3 separate regions of the Homo sapiens genome follow, and all the other regions are linked to region 1. The links come from fine-mapping of genetic effects on gene expression. A gene starts in region 1. Each other region holds a variant in brackets. All regions are shown on one strand. Distances are from middle to middle.

The links. PIP is the estimated chance that this variant, and not a neighbour inherited with it, causes the effect.
Region 2: its variant is fine-mapped to the expression of PIGQ in whole blood (TOPMed, PIP 0.93).
Region 3: its variant is fine-mapped to the expression of PIGQ in whole blood (TOPMed, PIP above 0.99).

What each region holds. Positions count from the first base shown.
Region 1 is chr16:565,328-573,500 of GRCh38, forward strand. It overlaps PIGQ (phosphatidylinositol glycan anchor biosynthesis class Q), which reads left to right and starts at 4,641. Exons shown (of 11, transcript NM_004204.5): 1 at 4,641-4,769. It overlaps PRR35 (proline rich 35), which reads left to right. Exons shown (of 3, transcript NM_145270.3): 3 at 1-202. It overlaps NHLRC4 (NHL repeat containing 4), which reads left to right and starts at 1,678. Exons shown (of 2, transcript NM_001301159.2): 1 at 1,678-1,748; 2 at 2,144-4,168. The coding sequence starts at 2,721. The coding sequence ends at 3,092. RefSeq lists enhancers at 1-213, 1,109-2,004, 1,953-2,002, 5,588-6,482 and silencers at 4,508-4,667, 4,738-4,957.
Region 2 is chr16:88,346-96,518 of GRCh38, forward strand. It overlaps NPRL3 (NPR3 like, GATOR1 complex subunit), which reads right to left. Exons shown (of 14, transcript NM_001077350.3): 10 at 4,874-4,980; 11 at 4,251-4,380; 12 at 1,368-1,557; 13 at 353-545. Among named protein-coding and RNA genes, the nearest start is that of MPG, 14 kb to the left of the region's middle. The variant G/A (reference allele first, on the strand shown) is at 4,580.
Region 3 is chr16:592,361-600,533 of GRCh38, forward strand. The region is part of intron 1 of RAB40C (RAB40C, member RAS oncogene family); the gene reads left to right. Among named protein-coding and RNA genes, the nearest start is that of RAB40C, 6.4 kb to the left of the region's middle. RefSeq lists an enhancer at 7,221-7,722. The variant C/G (reference allele first, on the strand shown) is at 4,505.

The DNA.
Region 1 (8,173 bases):
ACTGTCTCTGCCTGCAGCATGCCGGCCCCTCTCCTGCAGCCCCTGCCCCTCACCTGCCTGGGACCTGCCCCGCCTCCGCATGCATGTGGATAGACCCCCACGGGCCGTGGCCAACGCTTGTCCCTGGGGCCACACAGGGACACTGGAGGTCACAGTTATTTATTGATCACAATTGTGGACATTAAAACAGAAACTGTTCACACACGCCGTCTGTGCCTCCTTCCTTTGGGGCCCTAGTGTAGCCACCTGGACACCCCCCTAAGGAAGTGTCCTGGCCTGGGAGGCCTGGGTGGGCAGCAGTCCTGCTGGGCCTCTGTCTTCAGACTCGGCCCTCTCCTGTGGGCTGGGCCCTCCCCGCGGGGCTGGGGTCTGGGGGTGGGGCGGGACATCGGCGACGGGAGCTGAGCCAGGAGAGCCGTGTGGACTGGGCTGCTCGGCCTGTGTCTTGGTGTGTCGGGGGTGGAGAGGCGTGTGGACTGGGCTGCTCGGCCTGTGTCTTGGTGTGTCGGGGGTGGGCACGGACCCCTGAACATCCTCTAGCCTCTGAATCCAGCAAGGCCGCGCTCATATCAGCTCTCCTGCGGTTAAACGGTGGCCCCGGGGCTCTGTGGCTGGAGGCTGCTCACCCAGCGTGGGCTCTGCTGGCCCCTGCCAGCCCCTGCAGCCGTGATAGGTATCAGCCTTCACAGCTCACTGCCTCCCTCCCAGCAGGGCCTGGCTTGGCCCTCCCACGGGCAGGGGATGGGCAGACAGGGAGGGGCACCCGGGACCCCCACAGCAAATCACTTCTCTCCTGGGAGAGCTGGCCACACCCTCCACGCCCACCCTGGAATGGGCTCTGGAGCCCACATCGCCCCCCCAGGAGGAGAAGCAGTTCCTGCCTGCGTCCAGCCGGGCTGGGGCCAGTCCAAGCAGGCTGGCAGCGGCCCCATTAACTACCAGGGAGATAGCATCAGCCCCGACCCTGCCTCGGGGCAGCTAGAGCTGGGGTGCTGCCTGGCCAGGCGCGGAGTGCTGTGGGGACAGGTCCCAGCCGGGCCCCTCTACCCAGAGGCTTCCTGGAGGGGCTGCAGGGGGCTCTGGGCAGCCAGGAACTGTTCCCAAGTCCCGAGTCTGAGGGAGACTCCCTGTCCTCAGCCCCCGCCCCCCATATGTCCACTGCACCCCATATGTCCACTGCACCTCAGTTTCTCACCCCCACTGAGCAGACAGGTGAGCATGGCCTTGCTGGGGGCAACAGCACCCGTCTCCCAGGTGTGGAGACACGACCTCCTTCGCTGTCACCCGTGGGGAGCAGGACAGGCCTCATGGAGGGTGCCTCAGCCAGCAGGTCACCCGCCTGTGGTCCAGACCCAAGGACCCTGCTTGGGGGTGGCAGCCTGGGGCTGCCTTGCCACTTGGAGTAATGAACTTGCTGGTTGTGGGGGGACCATGGGGGACCCCTGGAGGGGGGTGGGCTGCATGGCATCTGGCCGTGTAGGGGACGTGGGAATAGTGTCCGGGCAGAGGGCGCAGCCTGCAACAAGGCGCGGAGGCAGGAACACCACAGCATGGGGAGTCCTCAGGGGACCTGGTTTTTCTTTCATAGAAGCTTCAGGGGCCAAGGCCGGAGACTGCACTCTCCCTCCTCCACCCGGCCCAGCTGCGTCCCTGCCAGTGGCTCCTCCCACTTCCTCCAGTTCTAGTTTCCAACAACAGAGGCTGCAGCCACCCAGCCCCGAAGCAGGGCCCAGCGAGACAGGGCCCAGGTAAGAGACCCCTCCCCCCGGCCTCTCTCGGTGGGGCAGGTGGAGGCCCTCGGAATAGGCTGCCTCGCCCCTAAGGGGTCAGAAGTCTCCCTGACCTAGGGGCTCGGGTAGAAGGGCTGTGTGTGGGTGACCGCCCCCCCGCCGTAGAAAGGGGTTCCACAGGCAGATGGATTTGAGAAATGTTGCTTATCTGTCTGAGGCCCATGAGCTCATCTGGGGCTCAGGGGAAAACCCACAGCGAGCTCCACGGGTCATGTGTCTCCCAGACTCAAGTCCCAGGCACCTAGACACTAGGGTGGCCGCTGGGCTTGGTGGCCAGGTAGACCCTCAGGACCAGGAGGACCCGGCCTCATAGGAAGAAACTGGAGGAGTGACTTTGCCATTCCCACACACAGTGGGGCCTTATTCTCTCTCTTGCAGCCCCAAGCGTGACCCAGCTGCAGAGAAGCTGAGACGGTGATTCGGACTGACTGGACTCTGGCCTCCAGGTGTCTGCACCTCACACTGGACCCACCTGGAGACTCCACGGGCTCCCGGCAGCTCCGGCTGCTTGGGTGGATCCGGGTGCCCGCAGGGGCTGTGGGAGGGCCCCGGGGCCTGCACTGCTCCCCCGATGGCCTGCTCTTCCTCACGGCCGGGGCTGCACCCTGTGTCCACGTGCTAGATCTGGAGGGACGCCCCATCTGCCTCCTGCCCTGCCGCACTCCGGGGAGCGGGGCCTTCGTTCCAGAGGACGTGGCTGTGACAGCGTCAGGGCTTGTGGTGGTCAGCGATCCCATCCATGGGGCTGTCCATGCACTCCAGCACACAGCCCGGGACCCCGGGGGCCACTGGGTGACAGTGGGCACCTTCCTGTCTCCCCGAGGGCTGGCTGTGGATGCCCTCAACCGCCTCCTGGTGACGGACTACTTGCCTGGGGCTGTGCACAGCTTCTCGTTGGGTCCTGCTTGGGAGCCCCTGGCCCCAGCCTCCATGCTGGGTCTGGAGGGCCCCTGCTGGGTGGGCCCAGGGCCTGATGGGGGCCTTGCTGTGAGTGAGGAGTTTGGGGATGTGAGGCTGTTTGGCAGTGCCCGCCAACCCCTGGGCTCCCTGGGGGGCTGGACGGGGCACACTTTCGGCTGCCCAGCGGGCATCTGCTCCAACTCAGAGGGCAATGTTATTGTGGCAGACGAGCAGAGGCGCCAGGTGACCCTGTTTCCCCGGGCTGGGCCACCCATCTGCCTGGTGTCAGAGGGGCTTGGGCAGCCCTTGGGAGTGGCCTGTGCACCCCAGGGCCAGCTCCTGGTGGCTGATGCCAAGGACAACTCCATCAAGGTGTACCAGGGCCTCAAGGAGCTGGCCTGACCTGAGGCTGGGTTGGAGCAGCCCTCCTGTGCCTGAGGCCAGCTCCCAGGCCCTTGGATCACCGCGGGAGGAACCCTCAGGATGGGTGGAGCCTCCAGGCTATGGGCATTGCCTGCCTGATGCCAGCACCACCTGGGCTGGGCCCTGGGCTTGGCTCGAGTTCTCCTGCTGGTGAGGCTCCGGATCTCAGGAGCAGCCCTGAGTCTGCTTCCCAGGCTGCCCCTGCCAGGCCTGCAGCCTCCCCAGCCAGGGCTGCTCTCTGCTGTCCCCATTCAGTGCCCTGGCCCCTGCATTCATGCCCCCCACACCCCCTCAGGCCCTGTGCCTGGACTTTGGGGCTGGCAGCTGAAGCCTTGAGATCCTGGGCCAGCTGCCGGCACACAGCTAGGCAGACTCTCCCACCAGGTGCCCCTGCCCAGGCCTCCTAATCGGGGGCAGACAGGCAGGGAGGGTGTGGCTGGGCTGGGCTGGGCGGGGCGGCCTGGGGCAGGGGTGTGGCCCCTAAATGTCCCCAACCTCAGAGGGACCTAGAGTCCTGAGCCTCCAGTAGCTTCTCTGGGCCTGGCAGAGGTAAGGGGGAGGCAACCCTGGAGTGTCTGGAGGCCCATGGCTGGCTGAACCCTGGATGCCTTTTCTTCCGCGTCCCCATGAATGAAAGCTGTCTGGGCCTTCATTCTGCAGACAGGGACAAACAGCTCCATGCTGTTTGTCCTCCCAGTGCAGCCGTGCTGGGAGGGTCTGGGGGAGCTTCCTACAAGGAGAGACTCCTGCTGCTTTGGAAAACTGAGAAAAAATAGGGGTCTAACCCTCTCCTCCCATTTTACAAGTGGGGAAATGAGGCGTGAAAGGAGAGGCGTCTGGGTTACTCCGTGGGTCTGGGGTCCAGGGAAGGGCCTGTATGGGGGAGGGAGCTGGGAGGGGACGGTGTCTGGCTCTACCCCTGTGGGGTGGGGAGGTGGGGCTCCCCTGTATCACAGGACATCCCCCCTGAGAGGTCCCTCATATGTCTGGGTCCTGTGGGTGGGGGACTAACTGCGCAATGTAGTTAGGTGCTCAATAAACGGAGTTGCCGCTGAGGTCTGGGCTGGGGTCTTGTTCCTGGGATCGGGAGGGGCTGGACGCCTGTGTGTTCTCTCCTGACGATCGCTGGCGGCAGCCTCTGGGCTGGTCCTACCAGGGCTCAAAATTCCCGGCACCACTGGCCTTGGGGATCTGGGGGCGGCCCCTCTGCAGACAACAGAGTGACGGGGGCGGGACCGGGCTGGGGCTGGGGCCTTCCTGGAATCCCGCAGGGCCTGGGGACCTGTTCACTTGGGGAGGCTGGGAGCCAGGCGGGGTCCGGGTTCCACGAAGGCCAGGTCCAGTCAGTTTCTCAGGTGAGGAAACCGAGCTGACGCGGGGCTGGCGGCCCGGAGGCAGGCTCGGGAGGTCCGGGCCTGGGGACTGGGCGGGCACGCTGCGCCGCGGAACGCTCGGGTCGGGCGGGCGGGCGGGCAGCCCGGGCGCCTTTGGGGGCCGGACCGTCGCGCGGCAACGCGCGGAGCCGGCGGAAGTGGGGCTCGGGTCCCGCGGCGGGGCTGGAGGCAGCGAGCGCCGTCGTCTGCCCGGGCCCGCCCATCGGGGTCCCCAACCCCATCCGGACCCCGCCGCCCGAGCGCGCGGCCCCGGAAGCACCCGGTGAGCAGGGGGGGTGGGCGGCGCGCGGCGGGACCTCGGGCAGCGCCCCTGCGGCTCCGGGCCTGGGCTGGGGGCTCCGCACTCCCGCCCGCGGCGCCGCTGCTTTCTCCTCCCAGAAGTGGGGCCGCCCCCGGGCCCGCGCCGACCTGGGCCCCTGTGGACCCTGTGCAAGGGCGGTCGGCGGCCCGGGCCTGGCTGTGGGCCCTTCGCAGTTGTCCCGGTTTGCAGGAAAGGGCAAAAAACGGAATCGTAGGCTCTTCCCAAATGAGAGGGGAAGGCCCTGCTTGAGGAAGGCAAGCAAGTTTGTTTGTTTGTTTGTTTTGAGACGGGGTCTCACCATGTTGCCCAGGCTGAACTCGTGTTTGTTTTTCATTATTTATTTATTTTGAGAGGGAGTCTCGCTCTGTCGCCCAGGCTGGAGTGCAATGGCGCGATCTCGGGTCACTGCAACCGCTGCCTCCCGGGTTCCAGCGATTCTCCTGCCTCAGCCTCCCCAGTAGCTGGGATTACAGGTGCCCACCACCACGCCCGGCTAATTTCTGTATTTTTAGTAGAGACTTGGTTTCACCCCCATCGAGGCTGGTCTTAAGCTCCTGACCTCAAGTGATCCGCCCGCCTCGGCCTCCCAAAGTGCTGGGATTACAGGCGTGAGCCACCGCGCCAGGTTGGTGTTTATTTTTCAAACAAGGCGCTGGGAAACGCAAATTCTCCAGAGCTCTTGTGGAGCGGTGGCAGGGAGGGGCGGCTCAGCCAGAGATGGCCCTGGCCCGTCCTAACTGGGCTGGGGTGCCCCCATTCCCTCATTCACGGGGAGGAGAGGGAAGTCTTAGTCTTACTACTTTATATGGTCGACCTCCCTACCTGCCTGGTCTGGGAATGGCTTCTCAAGAGCACTCGGGCTCATTCTTAGCAGAGGAAGCTCTTCTGGCTAGCCTGGCGCCCGTGTGTGTGTGTGTGTGTGTGTGTGTGTGTGTGTGTGTGTGTGTGTGTGTGTGTGTGTGTGTGTGTGTGTCTGGCTAGCCTGGTGCCCGTGTGTGTGTGTGTGTGTCTGGCTAGCCTGGCACCCGTGGCTAGCCTGGCGCCCGTGTGTGTGTGTGTGTGTGTCTGGCTAGCCTGTGTGTGTCTGGTTAGCCTGTGTGTGTGTGTGTGTGTCTGGCTAGCCTGTGTGTGTGTGTGTGGCTAGCCTGGCGCCCGTGTGTGTGTGTGTGTCTGGCTAGCCTGGCAACCATGGCTAGCCTGGTGCCCGTGTGTGTGTGTGTGTCTGGCTAGCCTGGGACCCGTGGCTAGCCTGGTGCCCGTGTGTGTGTGTCTGGCTAGCCTGTGTGTGTCTGGTTAGCCTGTGTGTGTGTGTGTGTGTTTGTGTCTGGCTAGCCTGTGTGTGTCTGGTTAGCCTGTGTGTGTGTGTGTGTGTGTGTGTGTGTGTGTCTGGCTAGCCTGGCGCCTGTGTGTGTGTGTGTCTGGCTAGCCTGGTGCCCGTGTGTGTGTGTGTGTGTGTGTGTGGCTAGCCTGGCGCCCGTGTGTGTGTGTGTGTGTGTGTGTTTCCTCAGTCTTTAAAGATGCTCACGTTGCTTTCTCCCGTCCCATACCTCCTCTGCTATCGATCGCTTCTCTTTCATCTTCCTCTGGCTGTGTGATCCCAGCAGCTGCTAGTGCAGGCTTCTTTGTGCCGCCGACCGTCCCAGAGGCTGAGGTGGGAGTGTGATGGGCGTTTGCCCCACAGTACGTTGAGTTTTCTCTCACTACTCGACAGAGAAGAGTAGCTTCTGCCCTCCCATCTCCTTCGGTAGACACAAGGCACTTTTTTTTTTTAAGGTAAACTTTGTAGATGAAGCACAAAGAATACACACAAAGAAAGCGCACAGATCGTGAGCACGTAGCTCGGTGAATTTACCCAAAGTGAGCCCACCGCAGAACCAGCTCCCCCTAGAACATCTGTTTACTGTTAGACCCATTGTGTTTCTTTTCCGACGATATCTGTGGGCAGTTTTCCTTAGTCCCTGTGAAAGCTCTTCCCCAGCAGGGCGTGATGGGTCCCTGGGCTGAGCTGGTGTGAAAGGTGGGCTGTACTGGGTGGTCCCCTATGGTGGTCACACAGCCAGACACGCTGGGCCCCTTGCAGGCAGAATCACTTTGTCCCTCTCACGATGTCCTTGGTGCCTCACGTCAGCTGGCCTCCAGGCATCCACCCGCCGCCTGCCCTCTCTGACCACTGAGGAAATGGGCATTTGAGGAGTTCTGCAGCCTGACCCAGAAGGTCCCTTTTCAGCTAGAACCCACCGCCTTGAGTGACTGGATCCTCCAGCCCCAGTGCGGGCTGCCTGCAGGGGAGGAGAGCAGCTGCACCAGGGGCCTCTTAAGCCCCAGGCATTTCCGTGTGAGGCCTCTTCCAGAGCCCCTCCAAGCTTCGGGAGAGGACTTACAGGTCACACCACCCCGACGTGTGCATCCTGCTCTGTTCCCTCGTCCCTAAGGATGTGGTGGGCTCTGAGACCTCCAGGCATCCTGGTCTGTTCCCTCATCCCTAAGGGCGTGGTGGGCTCTGAGACCTCCAGGCATCCCACTCTGTTCCCTCGTCCCTAAGGGCGTGGTGGGCACTGGGACCTCCAGGCGTCCCGCTCTGTTCCCTCGTCCCTAAGGATGTGGTGGGCACTGGGACCTCCAGGCGTCCCGCTCTGTTCCCTCGTCCCTAAGGATGTGGTGGGCACTGCGACCTCCAGGCGTCCCGCTCTGTTCCCTCGTCCCTAAGGGCGTGGTGGGCGCTGGGACCTCCAGACCCAGGCTCAGGCCAAGCTATGTCCCTCCCTCGAGTGTGGCTCCAGCGTGGGGGGTCTCTGCTCAGGGTGGCCGCTCCACTCTTCGTGCAGGCGAGATGGGGCTTTCTGTGTCTGAGGAAGGCGAGCGGCCCAGCCAGCCGGCCAGTAGTGCCCCCACCGCTAGGGAGTCCTCCTGCCCTGTGGGGCCCCGCCAGGGAAGGCATCAGTGGAGAAGGAGCCCCAGCTGGCTGCATGGCTCCGCAGGGGCCTGTGAGAAAGGGGGAGGAGAGGCCCAGGGCCTGGGAACCGCGGTAGCTCAGGTGGCTTCCTACTCAACAGCCACCTTGGAAGGCTGGTGTCCCTCAGCCTGAGAGTGCAGGATGCAGTTTCTCCACACCTCCGGGACCTGTAAGCCTCTCTCTCCCCGTTTCTAGGCACCCATGTCGTTGGAGAAATATATCCTGGAGAGAAAATGCTCCCTGAGGGAGCCCTGCCCTGGGGTGGCTGTGGGGATGTCAGGGAGGGCCAGGCACTGCCGGGTGCCACCGTGGGCGGGGGTCAGAGTGGAGGCCGAAGCCCTGTGTGCCCTGAGCAACGAGGCAGGTCCTTCCTGCCCCCAGGGAGGGGCTTGTGGGAGGCAGGGACCTTCTG
Region 2 (8,173 bases), 480 kb before region 1:
AGTCCGCAGTCCGGCCTGGGTGACAGAGCGAGACTCCGTCTCAAAAAAAAAAAAAAAAAAAAAGAACTTGGCACTGCCTCTCAAGGGAAAAGGAACATCTAAGAAGTACTGGAGAGAGAAGAGTCCGAAAAATAGGCATGCCAGGCCCATGGCCCGGCGTCTTGGTGACAAGCCGAACCCTCAGGCCTGGGCAGTGGCACCTGCCCCTACACACCTGAATGCAGAGACTCCATCTCGAACAGGGCCCCATCTGTTCTCAGTGGATTTGGTGGTTCTGTTGCGTACGTCCCTATCCACTTTCTGCCCTGACCCTGCAACTGGCCCCAGTCCCAACGGGTCAACCTACACCCACCTGGCAAACATGCGGAGGTCCTCAGGGTTCTGGGCTGCGGGTACACTGAGGATGGCTGCGCGTTCATGCTCCGACAGGCTGGCCAGCAGGTTCTCCGTCATCCTCTGGTTCAGTGGCGAGTCCCCGCTGGGAAGTAGCTCTGCGCTGGAGTTGTCCATGCTGGGGCTGGTGAGGGTCATGTCATCGCTGCTGGCTGTGGGGGACATGGGTCAGGGTGACCAAGTGGAATTCCAGGACACCCAGGGGAACAGCGAGGGCAGAGCCAGCAGCCAGCCTCCAATGACACCCCTAACTCCTACAAGGGTTAGGGTACATCTGCCTGCAAGCATTCGCTGCTGCCCCACCTCCTGGGTGTGACACGCCCCTCATACGGCTGACTTGGGAAACGGGTAGCCTCCCCTCTGGGGGCAACCTCAAGGGACCTGAACAGAGGTGCGATGTGTGCCCCACAAACACCCCAAGGTGGGCCTGGGCATCCTGTCCCTCACCCAGGATGGAGGACAAAGCACCCTGGGCAGGTGGGGTCCTCACATGAAGCATGAAGCCTACAGCCAGACCTCAGCCAAGGGGGGACTTTCAAAGTCTTCCACCCCCTTCCTTCCCCAAGCCTGGGGACCGGGGACCTGGGACCTGGCAACAGGCTGCTGCCCTCAAGCCACACTGGCCATGACGGCTCTTCTGGGGCGCAGAGGTGTCAGCTGTCCTGGTAGTGGTATGAGATCCTGCTCTGCTCCCAGGCTGGGGCAGAGATTCCAGCACTGATTTGCTGGGCTGGGAGCTGCCCCTAATTCTAGCAAGCCTGCTGAAGAGCCCGGAGACAGAGCTGCCACCTCAGAGTCACGGTGGTGCTAGGAGACAGGAGAGGTGTCTCCACGGGGGACACGAGGCACGTGCATGTGCGTGTGCAGCTGTGTGGAGGCCCCTCATCACTCACAGCACCACCCACGTTGAGCCTCCTGGATGCCACCCCCAAGCGTCTCCCCTGACTACCACAGCGGTGCCCTGGGGGTCCTACTTGGGGAGCCAAAGCTGAGGGCGTTGGGCGTGCTGAGGCTGCGACCGCCGACCCGGGCAGTGAAGGGGACGTCGTCCTCTCGCGGACGGGGCTCCTCCTCGCTGGGTGAGGCCATCAGGCAGACATAGGTGTGCAGCTGGATGAGAAGCCGGCGCTGCAGCATCCACACCACCATCTGGATGAGCTGGGTCTGCGGGTGGCAGCAGGTGAGGCTGGTCCCCCTCCCCACTCCAACTTCCTCCTGGGTGATCAGGGAGCCATGGCCCTAGACATGGCCACAGCACGCTCCCTGTGCTGACGCACAGGCAGAAAGGCCCTCTTCTCAGAAAGGGAGCCCCCAGCTGCCAGCCAGCTCTGCAAGGCCCGCTCACCCTCCTGGGAAGGGAGAGGGGCCAGGGGAACATCTGGATCACACCTGCACAGGCTCCCACCACACACCGGGGCCACCCAGCATCTGGCTGAGGAGCAGGACCTGAGACGTGGAGGCCCCTGTGACTGCTTCGCTGAGCAAACCCCCCACCCTGTGCTGCTGCAGCTGCCCCTCTGCCTCCTCTCTTCTTTGGCCCACTGGCCCTGGAGTTGGACCCAGCCAGCAAGTCCACCTCCACACAAGCCCAGACACTGTTTAAAAAGAGGCTGTGGGCAGGTACCCTGAGAGCAGAAAGTCCTCTCCTTGGATCTACCTGAAAGTCCACCCTGAGCACAAGAGTGGATCCACAAGAAAGCTGAGGCCAGTGACCCTGGGCTTGGGGGTGGAGCACCCCACCCCCACCCCCACCGTGAGAAGGCACGTCCTGGCCAGGCCCTCCAATGTCTCTGGGTTAGCAGGTGGGGCTGGCAGTGAGGAGCAGTGAGGAGCCTTGTGCCAGGTAGAGTCCAGTCCCCATGAGAAAGTACTGCCCAGACTCAGGCGTTGAACAGTAAGGAGTGTGAGACACATCAGTGTCCTCAGATACACATCTGTCTACTCATCTCTGGGAGGGTCAACAAGGAGCTGCTGGCCAGGGTCACCTCCTGGGAGGGGGCTGGGGAACTGGGGATGGGAATGGGGGATATATCCCAGGCAAGTAAGAAGACTTGGTCAAAAGGACTGCAAGATATCCAGACTTCACATGAATTTAAGAAATAAAACAGACGCGGGTGGATCACTTGAGCTCAGGAGTTCGAGACCAGCCTTGCCAACACAGTGAAACCTCATCTCTACTAAAGATACAAAAATTAGCCGGGTGTGGTGGCACACACCTGTAATCCCAGCTACTTGGGAGGCTGAGGCAGGAGAATCACTTGAACCTGGGAGGCGGAGGTTGCAGTGAGCCAAGATCACGCCACTGTACTTCAGCCTGGACAACAAAGCAAGTTTCTATATCAAAACAATAAAAAAAAAGCTGGGCGTAGTGGCTCATGCCTGTAATCCCAGCACTTTGAGAGGATGAGGTGGGTGGATCACCTGAGGTCAGGAGTTAGAGACCACCCTGGTCAACACGGTGAAACCCCGTCTCTACTAAAAATACAAAAAATTAGCCAGGCGTGGTGGCGGGCACCTGTAAACCCAGCTACTCGGGAGGGTGAGGCAGGAGATTGCTTGAACCCGGGAGGCAAAGGTTGCAGTGAGCCGAGATCATGCCATTGCACTCCAGCCTGACGTGCAATCAAAATTAAATAAAATCAATAAACCAAAAATAAAACAGAGGGGCTTCCCAGCACTGGAGCCCAGGCAGAACCTGGCTGACCTAGGCCCCTTGACAAGGCCTGGAGCAACCACTCAGTCATGGCCTGGAAAAGCCACTCCGTTATCTAGACCACAGGAGGCCTCTGAGAAGGGAGCACCAGCAGCTCCTCCCTAAGCACTGCCCCAAGAGCAGGGGTGCAGAGAGTGCCTTTTATTCAGCTGGTACAACCTGGCTCAGCTCCCAGAAACCAAGGGCTCTGTGAAAGACCGCACTGAGAGCTCTGTCAGGTTTAGCGTCTAACGGAGCTGAAAAGCCAGAATCGTTCTCATTCGTAATTTGAGAACGGAAAGGGTTTAACTTTAAGGACTGGTTTTGCCTAATAGATCTGGCACTTACTCAGATACTTCTGGAGACAAAGACTTGAGAACACCCAGCTCGTCTGTCTCCAACACCGTATCCTATCTGGCCCTGCTCTGAGTCTCTGCCCAGAACTCAGTGGAGGGGAGGATGGCAAAGCCACCTCAGCACAAGGCTATGACACCTGCAGCCCACAGGGGAAGCCACTGGCCCTGCCACAGATGCAGGTGCACCAGTTCATCCCACAGACCTGCAGGAGGCCTCCTATCCCCCAGCCACTCCTAGCTCCCAACCTGCCTGCCCGTTGCCCTGATCCAGGCCCACTAGGGTCCTCTCTAGGCTCTCTTGAATGAGGAGATTCTGGGGACCAGTGACCCCAGAACTCATACCCACAGACCCTGTGGCCACCTGAACCATGGCAGGGAGTGAAGACAGAAGCAGAACTCTCAGAGGGTCAGGCCTGGCCCAGTGAGAACAAAACTGCCTTTGCACCCTCATCTGTAGGCAGTCCCCAGTCCCAAAGGGGTACAAGGCAGGTCTGTAGGCCCAGAAAAGGTAAGCACTCTCCTGCTTAACTCGGTTCTAACACTAAAAACTGCCTGCCACAGCCAGGGTGGGCTCTATGGGGAGGGAACAACTGCTCAAGTGTTGGGTCACTGGCCAAGCATCTGCAGGTGGCCCGGCAGCTGACTTTTGGGTCCTGCTGGGCACGTAGCACTTGCACGGCAAGCCCCCAAAACCAAGGAGAAGCAGGTGGCAGTGCTGAGGGCTCTCAGATCAGAACCAACAGCCAGGCAGGTAGTGCCTATCCACTACACACCTGCCACTCTGGGCTCCTTGAGCTTCTGTGACTCACCTCCTGCACAGCGGGGGCCAGGGGATTCCTAAATTCTGACAAGGAGACCGGCAAGGAGAACTTGGCAAGAACGGACGGCAGGTCATGAGATGGGAACTGGTGGGAGAACTGCTCGGCCAGCGGGGAGTACCTGCAGGCAGGTGAGCATGCCAGTGAGTGCAGCAGACCCCCCCACCGTGTTCTCAACACTGGCCTCAGTGGGCAGCAGAGAAGCAAAGTGTGGCAGGTGGGTCAGGACAGTGCGATGAGGGCAGAACGGTATGAGGCCAGGCAGGCCTCCAGGTGGACAGAGCCTGGGCACTTCCCCTTGAGCAGCAGCAGGAGCCATG[G/A]GCACAGTTCATCCTGCATCTCACCTCTGATCCCTCAAGGTGGATTAGAAGAGCCAGCCTGGAGGAGGGGGCCAGGCATATGGGGGACACAGGAGAGCCACAGAGCACAGAGCCAGACCAGAATTGGGACCTGGGTATGCTAGTGGCCAGGAGTTAGGCTGAAGTGAGAGCCTGGCCTTGGGGCTTCCACAGCCTTTGGTGCCTGGCCAACACAGAGAACAGCATCTGGAGGGCCCTGCCAGCCTCACCCCTTCCCACTCGGGGCTCCAGGCTCTGGCAGCCAGCAGCACTCACAGACATACGCTGGCATTGGGAGACAGCATGTAGACGTTGTTCTCACACAGCGGGTAGATGATGATGGCCTTGCCCCAGTACACCAGATGAGCTGCAAGCTGGAAAACCTGCAGGCAAAAGGGAAGCTGCAAGGACCATGCCTGAGGCTGGCCCACCGGGAGCTGTCAGCAGCTCTCAGCCTGGGTGGCCATGGCCTACCAGCCTGGAGAAGCTGGCCCCAGCCTCATGCAGAACACACCTGGTGGCTATGGCCCGAGACTTCCTCCCTAACGTGGAATAGCACCTTCGCAACCTCTCACTAGGATGTGGGGCACAGCCAGCACACAGCACTTTCTGTGAGCAATGGTTTTTTTTTTTTTTTTTTTGGAGACAGTCTTGCTCTGTCGCCCAGGCTGGAGTGCAGTGGCACAATCTCAGCTCACTGCAACCTCTTGCCTCCCAGGTTCAAGCGATTCTCCTGCCTCAGCCTCCTGAGTAGCTGGGATTACAGGCACATGCCACCACGCCCAGCTAATTTTTGTATTTTTAGTAGAGACAGGGTTTCACCATGTTGGCCAGGATGGTCTCGATCTGACCTCGTGATCCACCCACCTTGGCCTTCCAAAGTGCTGGGATTACAGGCATGAGCCACCGCACCCGGCCACAATGGCCTTTTTGTCACTGCTCCCTGTGCTGTTTGGTGGCACTGTTTTCCCATCCTATGCTGTCTTGACTCCCACTGAAGAATGGTGGTCTCAGGCCACAAGCATGGGAATGTCTGGGGTGCTGGGAACACAGTGCTGGCCCAGCTGGGCAGGGGGCTTAGCTGGATGTCCTGGCAGGGGCACAGCCCTCTTATACCCCCTAAAACTCCAGCATGGCCTTGCCCGATGATGGGTGTGGAGTCACTCAGCATGCCACCCCTACATACCCAAAGGCCCCAGGTCTGCCCCATGTGCCCCGACTCCCACAGAGACCCCCCTCCCAGCTTTGCTCTTGTGGACCCTTGAACATCAGGAAACACAAACACAACCCAAACCCCTTCCAGAGGAAAGCTCAGGCCTGAGGTCTGAGAGCACAGCACCCCAGCACTTCACGAAAAGGTGTGTGAAATCCTAAGCTCTCGCACTTCTGCCTCTGCATCAGCCCAGGACACCACTCCACCCTCTTGGCGGGTAGGCCTCTGTGGAGGTGAGTCACCCCTGCCTGGACACCGTGCTGCCCTGCTGCTGAGGACACTTATACCTCAGCTCAGAAAACAGGGCCTCCAGACTGAGTGAGTGGCTCATGCCTGTAGTCCCAGCATTTTGGGAGGGCAAGGCAGGAGGATCGCCTGAACCTCGGAGTTCGAGACCAACCTGGGCAATATAGTGAGACCCTCATCTCTGCCAAAAATTTTTATTTAATTAGCCAGGCACTGCGGCACATGCCTGTAGTCCCAGCTACTTGGAGGCTGAGACAGGAGGATTGCTTGCACCTGGGAGGTGGGGGTTGCAGTGAGCCAAGATTGTGCGAGTAGTGCCCCCAATGGCTCCGCCAACCCCGACATGGCAGGTTTCAGCTCCATCACCGCCCTGTTCCCTCACCCCACGTGCCACTCGCATGTCTCTCTCAAAAAGACACCCCCACTTTCCCCCAGCTCTGCTCAGCATAGTGGTCTCCACCTCCTGCCTCTCCCTGCAGCAGCCTCTCCAAGATGCTGTCCATTCTGGAAATTGAAAATCCAAAATCAGTACTTAAGGGCAAGCATAAGGTGCCAGCAGGACCAGGCTCCCTCTGGAAGCTCCAGAAGAGAATTCGTCCTGCCTCTTCAACGGCCAGTGTCTCTTGGCTTGCGGTCACGTCACTCCACTCTGTCTCTGTGGCCACATCGCTGCCTCTTTTTATCAGATCTTCCTCTGCCTCCCTCTGATAAGGGCCTTAGAGATTACATTTAGAGCTCAACAGGATGATCTTCCCATCTCAAGATCTTCTACTTAGTAACATCTCCAAAGTCCCACATGAGTTCACATTCATAGATTTTGGGGATTAGGATGTGTATATCTGTGGGGGCCATTATTCAGCCAATCACAACGAATATACAGCACGATCCTAATTTTCATAATACAAAATAAAATGTTTGTGTGTGTATATATATATATATATATATATATACACACACACACACACACACACACACACACACACAATAAAATGTATATATACAGATAAAAAACCTGGAGGGATCTAGGTTACCTGTGGGATATGGGACTGTGGGAACTTTCTGTGTCTATAATTTGTGTAGTGTTTGAAGTCTTGTAACATACTAATTTTATCATGACACACCCAAAATTTACTTGTAGATTCTCTCTGGATTGATATAAACATGAAGAATTTTATTTTATTTTATTTTTTGAGACTGGGTCTTGCTCTGTTGCCCAGACTGCAGTGTGTAAAATCACAATTCACTGCAGCCTCGAACACCAGGGCTCAAGTGATCCTCCCACCTCAGCCTCCTGAGTAGCTGGGACCATGGGCACACACCACCATGCCCAGCTAATTATTTAATTTTCTGTAAAGACAGGGTCTTCCTATGTTGCCTAGGCTGGTCGTGACCTCCTGGGCTTAGGCAATCCTCCTGCCTCATCCTCCCAAAGTGCTGGGATTACAGGCATGAGCCACTGCACCCAGCCACATGAGGGACTTTAAACTATCTGGTGACATTCACACCTGAGGCAGGTGCTCCCCAGGGGGCTATCTCCGGAAACAGAGTGACCCACCAGGGCTGGGCCCCAGGGGCTTCCGCACCGCCACACCAGCAGCAACGCCCTGCTGACCTGCAGCAGGGACAGCAGGGAAGGGGTACAGACAGAAGAAAACAATGACAAACAGCCTTCCCTCTCCCCAGTCAAGGCCACGGCAGGGAAGTGAAGGGGACATCAAAAGGAGACCAAAGCTTTGTCCAAGGAGACTCTGAGAGCAAGGGTGAGAGGCACACTGTCCACACAAACTCCTGCCAGACAACCTCAGAAGAGGGCATCAAAGCTTTGTCCAAGGAGACTCTGACAGCAAGGATGAGAGGCACAGTGTCCAGCACAAACTCCTGCCAGACAGCCTCAGGAAAGCCAGGCCCAGCTCCTTTCAAAAGCTCAACACAGGACCAGTGAACAGCCACAGGCATTTACCATGTGGTCGGTGCTCATCAGGACACGGAGGGTCACTGCCTCCCTCACTCTGCAGGGTTGTATGGAGTGGTGAGTTCTTTTAAAATTCTCTGTCTCCTGAATGCTATGAAGGTGGGCAGGACATGGTGTTTACTGAGTCCTGTCCAGCCCATGAAGT
Region 3 (8,173 bases), 27 kb after region 1:
GGCTTCAGCAGTGGGCAGCAGCACCGGGGGCTCTGGAAGCTTGTGCTCCTGGCTTCAGCCTGGAGGAGGGGTTGGAAAGGGCCAGGGAGGAAGAGCTCTGTGTCCATTTTGAGGTGGGGGAAGTGTAAGGCCCACTGGGGCATTGGGGGCTCACACGTTAGGCCCCTGCACCTGCCGCCTCCTGGTCCTGCACTTGACAGTGACTGCCCCAGAATTGGTAACTCCTGACTCAGGTGGTGGGCGGCCAAGTTGATTGTGAAGGTGGCGTTGCCTTCTAAAGCTTGGCTCCAGGGGCGCTGCGCACTCCCAGGAGGCTGGCGGCGTGCGTGTTTGTGCATGTTCAGAAGAGCACGGGAAGGATTGGGTTTCATCAATCGGTGTTTTCCCAGGACATGAAGGCGTGCTTCTGAGGGCCGGCTCAGCCATGCTGGCCAGCTCGCCTACCCAACTGCACCACACAGCCAGGAGCTGGAGAGACAGGACCCTCCTTCCTCCCTGTCCCCTTCGTCGGGCTGTGGGGCATTGCCACACTTCCTCTGACATGCTCACTGAAGTGGGGCCAGTATTGTGTAAGACGTGGAGACCTGCCTGCTTGCAGAGACTTCAGAGGCTCACAGTGGCTTGGACCAGAGGCAGAGAGGAGAGTCCACTCTTAGAAAGACACCACGTGCTCTCAGGGCCCGGGGCACACTTCCAGGTCCCCGCAGGAGTCCTGTGGCCTCGAGCAGAGAAGGAAGCGCCTCTGGGCTGTGGAACGCGCTTTCTGTGTCTAAGGTCTCAAGGTTAAGACGTGCACAGCACAAGGAGCAGGTCTTTGTGGTCAGGTGGCAGCTTGCCAACCTCAGGGGCCAGCCCTCTTCATCAGGGTGAAGTTGGTGGATCTGAGGGTTTCCCAAGGGGGCTATTCAGGGTCTCAGAAGCTCAGGAGCAGCTGGTTCTCAGGACTCAGCATCTTGAGAATTTATTCTCCTTTGAAAGAGTTGTAGCAGGAGCTTTAGGCCTCTGGCCCTCGTGGGAAGGACGTACGTGTTAACCTCCATTGCTTTCTCTCCTTTGTTGGGAGGTGCCCTCTGTGTTTCCAGCTTCCGTGTTTCTTCAGGGCTGCCTGCTGGGCAGTGGGTGCCCTTGGCAGGGAGGCCCCTTCTGTGCAAGGCTTACTGCTTCAGCATGGCCCACAGCTCCTTCAGCTCACACCGGATCGCTTACCTGCCTGGAAGTCTTGTCTGGCATGTTCCTCAGACAGGTGTGTGAGCGTACATTGCCCTCTCCAGCTTCACAAACAAATGAGTCATCGAAGTGACCTTTTTCTTAGTACTGGCACCTGAGGCAGTGGCGTGTGACCACACGCCCAGCACCTGTGGGAGCCCCTGTGAGCTCTTCCGTGTCTCCTAATGTGGGTGTGCGCTGGGTTTCTGGATCTCTAGGTCTGGAAAGGCTTTCCTTTCTTTGACACCCAGCAGTGATCTTAGGGAGTGCTTCATGCTCTCTTCAGGATGGAACAGAGCGCTTTGCATAGAGTGCCCCTGGGTGATGGTGGCGAGTTACCCGGCAGGAATTATGCTTCATCCAGGAGTGTGGGTGGTGCACGCGGCGGGGAGGAGAAAGCTGCAGTTCAGGAGCGAACCTGCAGTCAGGCTCCAGGGTGTGGGCCAGGGTGGTGGGCCCGTGTTGGCCCCCAGGAACCACCCGCACAGGGTGCACACCCTTCCCCAAGCCCAGCCGCTCCCGCTCTGCAGGGGGCATCGAAGGTCCTGGATTAAGGCAGTTCCACCCTCGGCACCGTGTCCCCACAAACCTTCCTGGGAGCAAGTTTTCCTCCCGCCACGTTGGTCAGGGTGTGTGTGCCCGGGTCCTGGAAGACTTCAGAAGGGGTTAATCCTGGCTTGACTTTATTTCTCTCTCTGCTCTTTTGGGGTTCAGTGTTGGTGGAAGCTGCTGAGTGACACTCCGGTCCTTTGAGCCTGGCAAGTTGTGGGGAGAAACGGAGGGAGGCGGTTGTGGACATGGCGAGGCTAACATCACGGTTTGCTGTGGATGTTGGGGCCTGGTGGTCACTGAGATGTCTGTGGGGCCACACGCTGCCTGCTGTACCCATGGGAGCGAGGGCACCCTGTGTGGGTGTCCCAGCTTCTTCGGCTTCACGACTCCCTGAGCTTTCTCCAAACAGTTACAAACGTTTCTTCTCATCTGGCTTGAAGTTCGTGGCTCCGAAGTGGCCAATTCCAGGGGACACTATCTTGAGAGGCTCCTCCGTGTTTCATTGTCCTGATGTGTCGTCGGCTGCTTATCCCCAGGGCTAGCTGAGGGTTTCGTGGGAGGTTCTAGCTGTGTGTCTTTAGGTGACTGGACAGCCGTGCGTGGCTTCCCTGTGCCTACTGTTGGTGTTGGGCACCACTGACCACTGCAGCCCAGAGTCCCTTCTCCTCCCCTGCACTTGATTAGGTTTTGCTCGTCTTCCTTTTTTTTTTTTTTTTTTTTAGACGAAGTCTTACTCTCTTGCGCAGGCTGGAGTGCAGTGGCGCGATCTCGGCTCACTGCAACCTCTGCCTTCTGGGTTCAAGTGATTCTCCTGTCTCAGCCTCCTGAGTAGCTGGGATTACAGACGCCTGCCACCATGCGTGGCTAATTTTTGTATTTTTAGTAGAGGCAGGTTTCACCATGTTGGCTAGGCTGGTCTCAAACCCCTGACCTCAAGTGATCCACCTGCCTCGGGGGTTTTGCTCGTTTTCTGGGGCAGTGTTTTGGGGTTTGCCTTTCCTCTGTGAGGTGCCGGGTTTTCCAGCAGGGTGGTGTTGTGGGAGGAACGGGGTGTTCACCATGGCAACAGCTAATGCTGCCAGCGTGTGATGAGTGTTGCCTGCCAGCACCGGTGGGCGCTTTCCGCTGCCCCCGTGTAGCCCCCACCACCACCTGTGAGAAGGCAGCACCACCCCCACTGTGCAGACGAGGGATTGAGGCTCAGGAGGCGGCAGCTGTAGGGGTGGGCTTGGGGTCCGGGAGGAGCCGCCCTGCAGGCCTCCTGTGAAGCAGCGGGCTTCATGGCTCTTCCCCTGTCCTCCTCACGTCCACCTGGGCCTGGGGACGGCTGCCACACACCTGCTTCTGCTGCACCGCGCACACTAAGTTCTCCTGAGACCCAAGCCTCAGAGGACCGCCTCAGGCCCGGGATGACCCTGGCTGGCATCTGAGAACCCATGTGGTCAGGAGGTAGGACTTCTGTGGGTCATTATAACTTTTTTCTTCTTTTTTTTTTTTTTTTTGAGACGGAGTCTAACTCTGTTGCCCAGGCCGGAGTGCAGTGGCACGGTCTCGGCTCACTGCAAGCTCCACCTCCCGGGTTCAAGTGATTCTACTGCCTCAGCCTCCCGAGTAGCTGGGATTACAGCCACCTGCCACCACACCCAGCTAATTTTTGTATTTGTAGTAGAGATGGGGTTTCACTGTGTTGGCCAGGCTGGTCTTGAACTGCTGACCTTGTGATCCACCCTCCTCGGCCTCCCAAAGTGCTGGGATTACAAGGGTGAGCCACTGTGCCTGGCCTCTAATTGTGCTGTTTTATAAGTTGGACTGGCATGGCCTTACTTAAATTTTCAGGAAACTGTTGAGTCAGTAGGTAGAATATTGAATGTTAAGTTTGTCCAGAGGCCAGATGCCAGAACTTTTGGACAAGTGAGTTAATGTCCACCTCCAGTCCTTAGCACTTGCTCTAAGCGCTCACAGGCAACAGGGCAAATGCTTGCATGGCAGGTGCACGGCAGTGCCAGCCAGGTCTCTCGCAGGGTGGTGTGGACACAGATGACTCGTGTCGAGCACACGTGTTGTGGCCTGCACGATGAGCTAAATTGAACAGTGTTTCAGGAAGGAAGCCACATCGGGGAGCTGAGAGGTGGGCGGGAAGGACACAAGGGAGGGATCTGGGTCCTCGCAGGTACTTTTGCCTCTTGTTCTATTTGAAGATTGCAGCTGAGAAGGCGCGAAGCTGCTGGTCCCTGAAAAGCTGCCGCCTACCCTGGTCTGGAGCCCCTGCGAGCTGGCGTAGAGCAGGAAGGGGTTGCATCACAGCTGAGTCCTCCCCTGCGCAGCACATGGTACGATGCCACCCCACCGAGGGCCGTTCTGGGGCCCAGGGGCCACGTCAGCCAGGGTGTCATCCGCCGGGCGTTTGGAGTAAGCAGGGAAAGGTGTCGGCGTCCAGCATCCTGGTGCGGAGAACGCTGCCGAACCACTGTGAGAAGGCGGGGAGACTGCTTGTCAGGCTGAGCTGACTTCCTGGGCGGTCGGGAGAAGGATGTGCAGACTGTGGAACTGGCGGGTGTCAGGGACCAGAAGTTACGAAGGCGGTGGGAAGAGGAGCAGCTGTGGGAAGAAGGACTGGCTGCCAAGACCATGGGCTGTGGGCATCCTCAGGGCAGGAGCTGGGTGGAAGAGGGGCCTCTTCAGTCCTCTTGGCAGTGAAGGTAAACAGATGTCAGCAGGGTGGACTCGCACTTTGAGCCTAAGGTAG[C/G]GAGGAGGCTTCTGAGCCGACCTGGGGATGGCGGCGCACTCTGATACAGGCAGTGCGCGGCTGTCTCGTGCTGAGATCAGGATTTTGAGTAAAGCAGAGATTTCTGGACGTTTGTCCTTCAGAAATTAGCGGAGGGACAAGGGCATTGGCGCTGTGGAGAGGTAGGGACCCATGGGTATGGGGCGGAAGACCAGGGCACGACCAGACACCGCCAGGGTGCTGCACATGTAGGTAGCAGGGGGAGGTGGTCCAGGCAAGATGGGATGGGAGGGGCTCAGGAGCAGCCAGGTTCTAGTGCTGGTGATGAGGTGGGTGGTGGCAGGGGCATGTGGAAGGGTCTTCTGACCATGGCTTACAGAGGGCTTGGTGCTGGGGGGCCTGGAGTTGTGGAAAGGGTGAAGGGAAGAGTTGGTCCCATATTCCCAGATGGCAGAGTGGAAACAGAAGCACTCGGCCCCTGAGCAGCCTTCGCCGTCTTTACAGTGAACACAGTCCTCAAACCAAACTGGGAAGGATTCGAATCCTGGATGGGTGATGTGGTCCTGGCTGTGTAAACTGACCCTGATGAAAGACATGCCCATCCTGTGAGAGGGACAGCCATCTAGCATCTTTTTTTTTTTTTTAATTTTTATTTTTTGAGACAGAGTCTTGCTCCGTTACCCAGGGTGTAGTTCGATGGCACTATCTTGGCTCGCTGCAACCTCTTGAGCCTCATGGGTTCAAGCGATTCTCCTGCCTTGGCCTCCTGAGTAGCTGGGATTACAGGCATGCACCACCACACCTGGCTAATTTTTTACATTTTTAGTAGAGACAGAGGTTTTGCTGTGTTGGCCAGGCTGGTCTTGAACTTCTGACTTCAAGCAATCCGCCCGCCTCAGCTTCCCAAAGTTGGTGGAATTACAGGCATGAGCCACTGTGCCCAGCCCAGCTCAGCATCTTTGGAAAAGAGCAGAGGGCTGGGCACGGTGGCTCACACCTGCAATCTCAGCACCTTGGGAGGCCGAGGTAGGCGGAGTGCTGGAGCCCAGGAGTTTGAGGCCAGCCTGGGCAACACAGTGAGACCCCATCTCTACAAAAAAAAAAAAAAAAAAAAAAAAAAAGGCCGGGTGCAGTGGCTCACACCTGTAATTCCAGCACTTTGGGAGGCCAAGGTGGGTGAATCACGAGGTCAAGAGATTGAGACCATCCTGGCCAACATGATGAAACCCCGTCTCTACTAAAAATACAAAAATTGGCCAGGCATGGTGGCTCACGCTTGTAATCCCAGCACTTTGGGAGGCCAAGGCAGGTGGATCACGAGGTCAGGAGATCAAGACCATCCTGGCTAACATGGTGAAACCCTGTCTCTATAAAAATACAAAAAATTAGCTGGGCATGGTGGCGGGCACCTGTAGTCCCAGCTACTTGGGAGGCTGAGGTACGAGAATGGCGTGAATCCAGGAGGCAGAGCTTGCAGTGAGCCGAGATCACGCCACTGACTCCAGCCTGGGTGACAGAGCGAGACTCCACCTCAAAAAAAAAAAAAAATACAAATACAAATACAAAAATTAGCCGGGCGTGGTGGCGCATACCTGTAGCCCCAACTACTTGGGAGGCTGAGGCAGGAGAATTGCTTGAACCTGGGTGGCGGAGGTTGCAGAGAGCTGAGATTGTGCCACTGCACTCCAGCTTGGTGACAGAGCGAGACTCTGTCTCACAAAAAAAAAAAAAAAAAAAGAAAAAAGAAAATTAGCTGGGTGTGGTGGTGCACGTCTGTAGTCCCAATTACTTGGGAGGCTGAGGTGGGAAACTCACTGGAGCCTGGGAGGTGGTGGCTGCAGTGAGTCTGACTGTTGCACTACGTTCCAGCCTGGGTGACAGAGTGAGACCCTGTCTCAAAAAATAAAAAATAAAGAAAAGAGGATGGAAGAAGAGAAGAGCTGAGTCCTGGAAATGGGCAGGTACTTTACAGTTTGTACAGCGGCCGGATGTAAGAACCTCATGTCAACCCTGAGTGAAGGTGTAGGCCGGGCGGTCAAGCACAGCACTCTCCAGCAGCTCCAGCAGCGTGGGTAACCCGGTGGGAGCCTGTGTGCTGCTTTCCCTGCCCGGGGCCGGCGGCTGCTGCTGGGCTTTCGCCTGACTTCCTGGTCAGCAACGTTGTCGGCCACCTGGGCACAGCAGGTACAGCCTGTGTGTCAGACCTAGCTGGGAGGGGCGGTAATAGGGTAGATGACATCAGGATTCAGGACTCTGAACACAAACACAGTGACACTGATCAGGGTTGCCGAGGTGCTGTGTTTCGGTCCAGAAAGTCACTGCTGCAGGGGAGGGGAGTATGGTCACAGCCCAGGCCCCGGCCCCGGCCGAAGCTGCCACTGACAGGAGACCCTTCTCTGCCTGTGCCACCAGCTTTGCTCCGAGGGGTGTCTGTGTCCTCAGGCTCTGCCAAGGCAGTGTCAGGCTGATGCCTGCCCGTGTCGGCCGGCCACAGCCCTAGTGGCTGCCCGCAGAGTCTTGCGCCCACCTGATTCCTGCCTGAGAGGAGCCGCCAGGTCAGCTGATGCCAGCAGGACCCACTTCACCAGGTCAGCAAGGAGGAGGCAGCTTCCCTTGGGGCCACGCCGTGCCTCCTCCGTGTGCGCTGCTGCCATGGCTGCTTCTGTCGATAGGCATGTACGTGAAAATGCACACCCGTGGGTGTTCGCTACTGTCAGCGTGGATTCAGCAAGGTTTTGTTCCCTCGTGGCATCAGTCAGCGTGGATTCAGCAAGGTTTTGTTACCTCGTGGCATTAATCAGCGTGGATTCAGCAAGGTTTTGTTCCCTTGTGGCATCAGTCAGCGTGGATTCGCAAGGTTTTGTTCCCTCGTGGCATCAGTCAGCGTGGATTCGCAAGGTTTTGTTCCCTCGTGGCATCAGTCAGCGTGGATTCGCAAGGTTTTGTTCCCTCGTGGCATCAGTCAGCGTGGATTCGCAAGGTTTTGTTCCCTCGTGGCATCAGTCAGCGTGGATTCGCAAGGTTTTGTTCCCTCGTGGCATCAGTCAGCGTGGATTCGCAAGGTTTTGTTCCCTCGTGGCATCAGTCAGCGTGGATTCGCAAGGTTTTGTTCCCTCGTGGCATCAGTCAGCGTGGATTCGCAAGGTTTTGTTCCCTCGTGGCATCAGTCAGCGTGGATTCGCAAGGTTTTGTTCCCTCGTGGCATCAGTCAGCGTGGATTTGCAAAGTTTTGTTCCCTTGTGGCATCATACTCCTTTCCTGTTTGGTTTGGGACTCCCATGGCCCCCTTGATGTTGGAGCCTCTTCAGGTGGCACCTGCGTCCTGGGCTATGCCCTGAGTTCCCGGAGCTCCCTGTGTCCTGGAACAGTCTGTACTTCCAGCAGATGTGGGTCCTGCCTGCCCTGGAAACGGCCATCTCTCTGAAGAGCCTGTGTCCTCCTGGTGGGGAGGGATAGCTAGTATGTCAGCTTCTTAAATTACTTTATTAAAAATTGAGTATATGCAAAATAGTAGTCATAATAATAGTAATAGTAGCAAGTGCAAAGTGTAAGTAATAGAAATGGATGTCACCTAACCTGCCGAGTTTAAAACATTGTTGTTGGACTTTTTTAAAGAGCTTTGGTGCCGGATGGGCACGGTGGCTCACGCCTGTGATCCCAGCACTTTGGGAGGCCGAGGCGGGCGGATCA